2 linked regions of the Homo sapiens genome follow. Changing the gene in region 1 together with any one later gene gives a genetic interaction. Each region holds a gene or a part of one and is shown in the gene's direction. Other genes may lie near its edges.

Region 1 (4,514 bases):
TAATGGAGCAGCCGGCAGGTTGAATAAAGGCTTGCCTGAACTTGGGTCTCGGTCTCTCTCGGTCTCTCTCTCCCTCTCTCTCTCTCTCTCTCGTCCTTTCTCTCGGCTAACTTCACAGATTGCACATAAAAAAGAAAAGGGGTTCAGAGAAGGTAAGTAACTCCCTAGAGACCAATAAGTGGCACAGAAGGGAATTTGGGCCCTCATCTGTCTGACTCCAAAACCTGGCTTTATCTATTCACCGGTCCTTATAACTCAGCTAAAACGAGGGTTAAGCAAGTGCCATCATTTATGACTGTGAACCTCTTCAAAGTTCAGATTGTTCCTGAACAATCAAGCATTTCAAACTCTTACCATCAAGTAAGGAGATAGCGTTACATCGTGTGTAGGCATATGGGGATTAAAGATTACATTATATTTTCCAAATTGCACTTGAGAATTGACTGTGCCAATTATATCCTTTCTGGGTATCTACCTTGTTCACAGTATGTGGGATCCAGGTTGAGGAACAGCATAAAATTCTTGTACCCTGTTGCAAAAATTTATTAGTAATCCATGCATACTGGTTTAGGATTTGAAAACAGGTTTTATAAAAGGTTTGCTAGGTATCGATCTAATTTCAGGAATACCCTAGTAGGGAAATTCAGTGACCTTTACAAATTTACCCGTGGCCAAAAAAAAAAAATAAGTAAAAATTAAAAATCAGAACACATCCAAAGTAATTATAATTAAAATTAACCAAAGTTCCTGATCCAATCCTGATAAGGGGTATTAGGTTTAATATTTACAGATAATTTATGAAGAAAAAGATTACGGTTCAAAGTCTACTTCAGGTATTTCTATTTACATTTCTTGGAAAAGTTTCCCAGGGCTCTTTCTGCCCCAGCCGCCAATCTACAGAAGAGTCTAGTCGACTGTCCACTCATTTCACAGCACTTGTCTGAAACTAGAAGACCCAGGGAGGGAACAAGGTTCAGGCTTGAAACGCTAAGACATTCAAGATTTCACCTTGTATGCAAAAATCAGAATGGGAGGCTGCAGCGGGGCCTCACACTCACCGGAGCTAGGCGCTATAGATCCCGCACCCGCGGAGCCCGGCAACCACCTGAGGGGCCTTGGCCAGGAGGGGGTGGCCCCCCGGCGCCGGCGGCAGCTCCGGAGCAAACCTGGCAAACCCGAGCAGGGCGGTGCGGGTTGCTCAGGGAGAAAATGAAGGGAGTGATAGGGTGGGGGTGGCAGGGAACGGGCACAACGCCGGCTTCCTCCGGACGGCCTCCTGCGTCCCACCTGTGCTCCTGAAAAGCGGCCCCCGACAGGGCGCGGCGGGAACCCGAGCCGGGAGTAGGGTCACGAGTTAAAGCGGCGGGGGCGGGAGGATGCGCGGGCGGCGGACGGGGCGCTCTCCTCCCGTCTGACTCTGGGCGGAGCGGGGCTCGAGGCTGCTGGAGTCGCTCGCTGACTCGCCCTGCGCCCTCGCCGCGGACACCGGAGCTGCGGCCGCTCCCCGCTGTCCCCCAGGTGAGCCCGCGGGGCGCTGCCCCGGGGCGTCGGGTGTCGCGGGAACGGCGCCCGCGGCGCACAGGGAGGGCCGGGGAGGCCGGGAGGCAGCGAGCTGTCGGGGACGCCGCGGGAAGGCCGGGCCGGGCAGTCGGCGCCATGGAGGGCAGGCGGGCTGGAGCTGGGCGCGAGATGCAGCTGTTCCGCGCCGCCCCCAAGCCGCCCGCAGGTCAGTGGAGGAGCGCGCCTGCCGGGCCTGCCCGGGGCTGGGCGGGTGGGGGTGCTCTGCTCCTCGGTCCCCCTCCAGGCCGCCGCCCACCTGTGGCCAGGGCTCAGAGGGCTGGAAGCCACCCCCGCCCGGAGCCCCTGGGCTGGAAGGCTTGGATGCCGGCCGGGGCTCCAGATGGCCTTGACGCGGCTCGGCTGGCCCCTTTCAAGGCGGACTGTCCCCCTGTTAGAGGTGGGGGCGGCTGGAAGTGGGGGCTCAGGCCCGGGTCGCTGCGCTGGCTGAAAGCAGCCGCCAGCCGGGCTGCGGCCGTCTGAGCTCCACGGCAGTGCCCGGGGATGGCAGCGACCGCTCTGGGACATCGCTGCAACCCTGCAGATCTTTCTCGCACACACTACCCAACAAAAGTGTCAACCCTTGTTGTTTGTTTGTTTGAAAAAAAAAGAAGACTGGAGAGACTAAAGTTTTGTGTCTGGTGAAGTGGGAAAGCGCTTCTGAAAAAACGAGGTTGCATAACTTTGTCGCCAACTGGGAGGCCTTTGCTATTTATACACTCCCGGGCTTTCTCCAATTTTCTACAGCTTACTCCAATCAAGCCTCTGCCCGCCAGGAACAGGTAACCTGTGTGTGTCCGTTTGCTCCTTCTAAGAGCATGCCTGATAGATACTTCGGTAGCCTCTCCGGATGGCCCCTTCGTCGGGTAGCCTCTCCTGATGGGGTCCTTCGCCCACCCTGCCTCCCGCGCCGGCGCTCCGGGTGAATGTCAAGGGTGGCTGGCTGCGAATACCTCCTTCAGCTGCTGGGGTTCCCGACAGTTTGCAGTTTTTAAAAGTGCACCCTCGGAAGGGCTTTTCAGACTGGGTAAACCTGACTTTTCCAAGGTCAGCATCTGGTCCTGGTGAATGAAATGTCTACCGGGACAACTCGTTGTGATGTGCTGAATATATGCTGGTTGGCTTGTTTTCTCTTTGTTCCTGTGGATTACTGTACATGGTGTGTGGCTAGTTTGTTTAAAATTTAATTTTCCCTGTATCAAAGTGGAAAGCGCTTAGTGTCAATATACAACTCACCAACATGCTTATTAACAGCTTCATCATTATGTTGGTGTTCATATGCGAGCTTTGGTCAACATGAAATCATCTGCGTTTTAAGTCCTATAGATAAAGTCTCCTTAAATGCTGGTTAAAATATCCTGCCTTTTTGAAGGAAGTAAAACTGTTAAGTGAAAATCCTAATTTATTAATAACTTTTTCTTTCCTTTATGCCTTTACCTAAGAATTACTGCATTTATGCTTTGACAGGCATTTTAACACGCACACAGGAGCCACACTTTAATGAGTTATATAATAATTATTTCATTTTGAAGGTACTGCATTTGCCATACAGTAAATATGTTTTATGGTTTATTCATCCAGCAGTATCCTTATTAATCTTTTCATTAACAAGAGTTTAAGAACCTTCCCCATGCTATTCTTTATAGCCAGTATCTATTGTTCGGAGATGTTGGGCTTCCTAAGAATGCTTGAATTGGAATCAAAAGTGGGGTTCTAGACTTGGAAAGCAGCATGGTATCTAACCAGTGACTTGTAAGATATTGTATGAATGCAGGTTACAATTTTCCTTCTTCATTGCTGAGTACAAGTTATTATTAAAATGTCAAATAAAGCCTGCCTTTCTATTCCGTATGGAAGGACGCTACTCATTGTTTGGGGTATTTTACTTTGAACAGGTTTCCATAGTATAATATCAATCTTAGTCTGAGGGAAAATCCAAGATCCATCCCAGTCTCTAGAGTGACTTCTCCGTCACTTTGAAAAAACTGATTCTGAAGACAATAAAACCAGCCCGACCCAACCCTTTTCAAACGTACCTGCCCCCCCCCCCAAATAGATATGAAGTACTTTGAAAATATGCTATAAATATAAGGCCTTCAATAAAAAGTCATTACAAGCGATGCCACAGACTGGGAATTAGGCTTAAATTGAGGGCCCATTTTCCCCTTTGTACAACAGTTATGTTTCCTGAGGCTCATACTGCCCCTTAAGAACCTTACTGGCTTTCTAGGAAGCCACCCTGTCTGCTGTGGGTGTTAGGTAGGTGAGTCTGCTTAGCGCTAGACCCTATGCAAAGGCTTTGTTTACTGTTTTATTTAATGCTCTCTACACTCATAACTATTTAATTCTGGCTACAATCATAGAAGGGTAGGTGTAGTTATTCCCATTTTGCTGGAGAGGAAACTGAGGCTCAGAAGGGCTAAGTGATTTCCCTGAGATTGCAGAAACGTCAAGTCATGGAACCAGGATTAGAAACCAAACTGAATCTTGTTCTTTACACTACACCCTGCTATCTTTAACTCGGTGGTTTTAAACATTTTTTGATAATCTGTGAAAGTTTTAGTTACCTCCCAGGAAAAAGTGTCCACAGCCACATATATGAAAGTTTTCATATAACTTCAAGGCCCACCTACCCTCTGAAGTCCTTCCCCCAGGTCCTCAGGTCTCTGATCCTCTAACTATACTGAGTGAGGCAGAAAACATATACATCCTATATATATGTACATATAATCTTTTACTAATGGGAGCAGCCCTTGAATTTGGTAACTTTGAACTAGGTGAAAATTCACTTTGTAATTAAAACAAATAAAAAAGTGACGTCCTACATTGGAACTGATTCTGTAAACATCTAAAATGCAGTTTAGAGCAATGGTGCTTATTTGAAACCAGGACTTCTGTATGGGCTTCTCCTTGCAATATTAAAGAATATGGACTTGTGTCTTTACTCACTAAATGGA
Region 2 (3,515 bases), on another chromosome or scaffold:
CATCTTTGCATGCCAGCACAGGGGATGAGACCCTTTGCACCAGCCGACCCAAAACCTCTCAGGCTGCCACCGGCACACAGGCGTGAGGGATTGTGACCCCAGAACCAGAGCTCGGGCTGACAGGTGTGGGGATTAGGATTTGTGCGACTCTGGAGCAGGCTCTATTCAGAAAGGGGTGGGGTGGTCCAGGAAGGCTTCCTGGAGGAGGGGATAGCTGCAGTGTACAGGGAATGATGAGGAGTCTGAAGCACTCACCATGGGGTGCCCATAGGCAAGCTGTGCCCCTCCTGTGTGCCCTCTGGGTCTGCTGCCCCCACCCTAGTGGGCTCCTGGCACCCTCTGCCTCTCAGAGCTCCCTTTCCTCGCCTGAGCCCCAGAGCCGCCTCTCTACCCTCCCTCAGCCGGGGGTCCTCATGTCTGCTTCCCTCCGTAGGACTGGCCGTTTGACGATGGGGCGCCCCCGCCCGGCAAGGTAGTGGAAGACTGGCTGAGCCTGGTGAAGGCCAAGTTCTGTGAGGCCCCCGGCAGCTGCGTGGCTGTGCACTGCGTGGCGGGCCTGGGCCGGTGAGTGTCGGGGCGGGGTAGGGCTCGCCATGTCAGGTGGTTGGGCATCTCGTGGTCTGACAGCCTCGCTTTTGGATGTGGGTCTTGAACACACGTCCACGCGACCTTCCCAGGAGGCCCATGCCCCTAGTGCTGGGGCTCCCAGACTGGTCCTCTCCCAGCATCACAGAGAGGAAGTGCTTCCCAAAGTCTAACCCAACTTCTTCCTGCTATGGTTGAAACCATCCTGACATCTTGTGTAGGAAAGGGCTGCCGTCCCCCTCTCCAGACACAAAGATCCCCCCACACACAGCTGGGGCCTCAGACTCCCTGCTGGGAGAACGGGAGGAAGAATGGCAGCTGGGATCGGATGACATGACCAGTGGGACACCCCCATCTGCAGAGGGAGACCCAGGCGAGCAGAGTTGATAGCAGGCATGGATCCGGCTCTTAGCACTTCACCCGCCAGCTCTTATTTAACCCTCCCCCAGCAGATCACAGAGAGGTTGCCTAGGAGGGAGCCAGGATTTAGACCCAGTGCTCAGGCTGGGCTGTGAGGCTGTGGCCTCCATGGGGGAGCTTCAGGCAGGGGGGATTCTGGGCCCCTTGGGCCCCCGTGCCCTGCATCTTCAGCAGGTGCCCTGCCAAGGGGACAGGGGTGCGCAGGCTCCGATGACCCCCGCCCTGCTGTTTGCCCCCAGGGCTCCAGTCCTTGTGGCGCTGGCCCTTATTGAGAGCGGGATGAAGTACGAGGACGCCATCCAGTTCATCCGCCAGTGAGTGGCCGCGGTGGTGGGGTGGGCTGTGAGCGCTGGGGGAGGGGAGATCCGGCTGCCCACGAAGGGTGGCGGCATTGGCTGTGTGGTTCCGTCGCTCTGAGGCTGCGTCGATCAGCACAAGCTGGGCCTTGCTGCAGAAACGGGGAAGCCTGAGGTGTTTCTGATGGGTGGGGACAGCAGCCCCCGAGTGACCATGCAGCCACACAGGGACACAGCGAGGCCACCCGCCACGCCGTCCTGCCCGCCCTCCACAGACAGAGCTCCTTCTGTCGCAGCCATCCTGACGGGGGTGGAAGGACCCCCAGAGCCAGCCAGTTCAGTCCCTCCATGAAAAACTAGAACCTGAAACCCCACACCACACCGTGTCCACCCCCAGGGACGCTGACAGTGGGCTAGTGTCTCAGGACTACTCTGAGTCTAGCTGCTCACCACCCCTCCCCCCAACCCCGAGCTCTCCAGCTCAGCCCCTCCCCGCCCTCCTTAGAGGCTTCTAGGCCAGCTCGCCTGCCCCATCCCTGTCACTTGGTGGCCTCCCTGGGGAGGGCTGCCATCTGCCCACTGCCCAGGGGGTCCTGGGGGAGTCTGGCCGGGATGGCAGGGCCAACTCTGGAGGAACGGATGCGGCACCTGAAGCCTGCCCCTGCCCAGCCCACCATGTGTGTGCCCGTGAGTGTGACACACCTGTGGTACTCCTCGGACAGGCTTGGCTGGTGGGGCCATCTCTTCCTCCCAGAGGCAGGCTTGTTCCCAGCCATGCCAGCTGGCCCTGTGGGTCTGTGTGAGAGTGTGGCCCGCCCTGTGGGTCTGCGAGAGCGTGGCCCGCCCTGTGGGTCTGTGCGAGAGCGTGGCCTGCAGGTGCTCAGGTCTCCCTGGGGACCATGGGATGTGCACGCTCACACACAGACACGCATGGGGGTCATACAGGCACACATTCACAAGCACATGTGTGCCCACACAGACCCAGGCATACGCAGGCACACACTCACAGGCAGGTGTGTGAACACAGGCACATACAGACAAGCGGGTATTTGCACACATGGACACACATGGATGCACTCAGGCATGTACACACGTGTGCACTCATACATGACATGCACTCTCACACATGCGGGTGCACACCTTCCCCGGGTTCTCTCCCCACCCCACGTCTCACCGAGCAAGGGCTTGTCTCTCCCTTGTGGCTTTTGCTGTGTGGCTCCCCGCACCTGAGGCTGCGCTGGTCAGGACAGGTTGGGCCATGCTGCGGAAACAGCCAGGCCTGAACCCCAACGACTCAGAACAGCACGGGCGTTTCTTGCCCCTGTTGCGTGTCTGTTGGTGGGGGCCCTACCCGGAGGCGTGGCTGAGGGCTGCGCCTTCCCCAGTGTGCCGGCTGCTGGGCGAGGAAACGAGCACGGTGGAGCCACACGGGGCACCTGCAGCTTTGCTGGGCAGAGACTCCTCGCGCTACTGCTGCTCCCACTTCCTTGGCCAGGGCCAGCCTGTGGCCACGCCTGAGGTCATGGCAGGTGGGGATGGATGAGCCTCCAGAGGCGCTGGGTGGGCAGCCCCCGCCCCTCAACGCCTGTCACCTCAGGGCCTCTCAGGTGTGGCTGCAGCATCCTCTCCAGGAAGTCTTCCTGTTCACCCCAGCCAGGTACATGTGGTCAAGGACCAGGTGGCGGGGCAGGGTGAGCACATAGCCCAGGTCCCTGCTGTAAGGACCAGGTGGCGGGAGCAGGGTGAGTGTACAGCCCAGGTTTCTGCTGTAAGGACCCGGTGGCGGGGACAGGGTAAGCGCACAGCCCACGTCCCCGCTGTAAGGACCAGGTGGCGGGGACAGGGTGAGCACACAGTCCAGTCCCCGCTGTAAGGACCAGGTGGCGGGGACAGGGTGAGCGCACAGTCCGGGTCCCCGCTGTAAGGACCAGGTGGCGGGGACAGGGTGAGCGCACAGTCCGGGTCCCCGCTGTAAGGACCAGGTGGCGGGGACAGGGTGAGCGCACAGTCCGGGTCCCCGCTGTAAGGACCAGGTGGCGGGGACAGGGTGAGCGCACAGTCCGGGTCCCCGCTGTAAGGACCAGGTGGCGGGGACAGGGTGAGCGCACAGTCCGGGTCCCCGCTGTAAGGACCTGGTGGCGGGGACAGGGTGAGCGCACAGCCCACGTCCCCGCTGTAAGGACCAGGTGGCGGGGACAGGGTGAGCGCACAGTC

The links.
Region 2: of MCOLN3 (region 1) and PTP4A3, changing one suppresses a phenotype caused by changing the other (phenotypic suppression), as found in Homo sapiens cells (one study listed by BioGRID).

Annotation. Positions count from the first base shown.
Region 1 is NC_000001.11:85,045,400-85,049,913, reverse strand, and holds the start of MCOLN3 (mucolipin-3), read left to right. Parts: upstream 1-1,413; 5' UTR 1,414-1,518; intron 1,519-1,648; exon of another isoform or gene 1,649-1,656; coding exon of another isoform or gene 1,657-1,726; intron 1,727-2,304; exon of another isoform or gene 2,305-2,339; intron 2,340-4,514. UniProt on the Homo sapiens protein: Nonselective cation channel probably playing a role in the regulation of membrane trafficking events. Acts as a Ca(2+)-permeable cation channel with inwardly rectifying activity.
Region 2 is NC_000008.11:141,426,506-141,430,020, forward strand, and holds part of PTP4A3 (protein tyrosine phosphatase type IVA 3), read left to right. Parts: intron 1-433; coding exon 434-564; intron 565-1,244; coding exon 1,245-1,319; intron 1,320-3,515. UniProt on the Homo sapiens protein: Protein tyrosine phosphatase which stimulates progression from G1 into S phase during mitosis. Enhances cell proliferation, cell motility and invasive activity, and promotes cancer metastasis.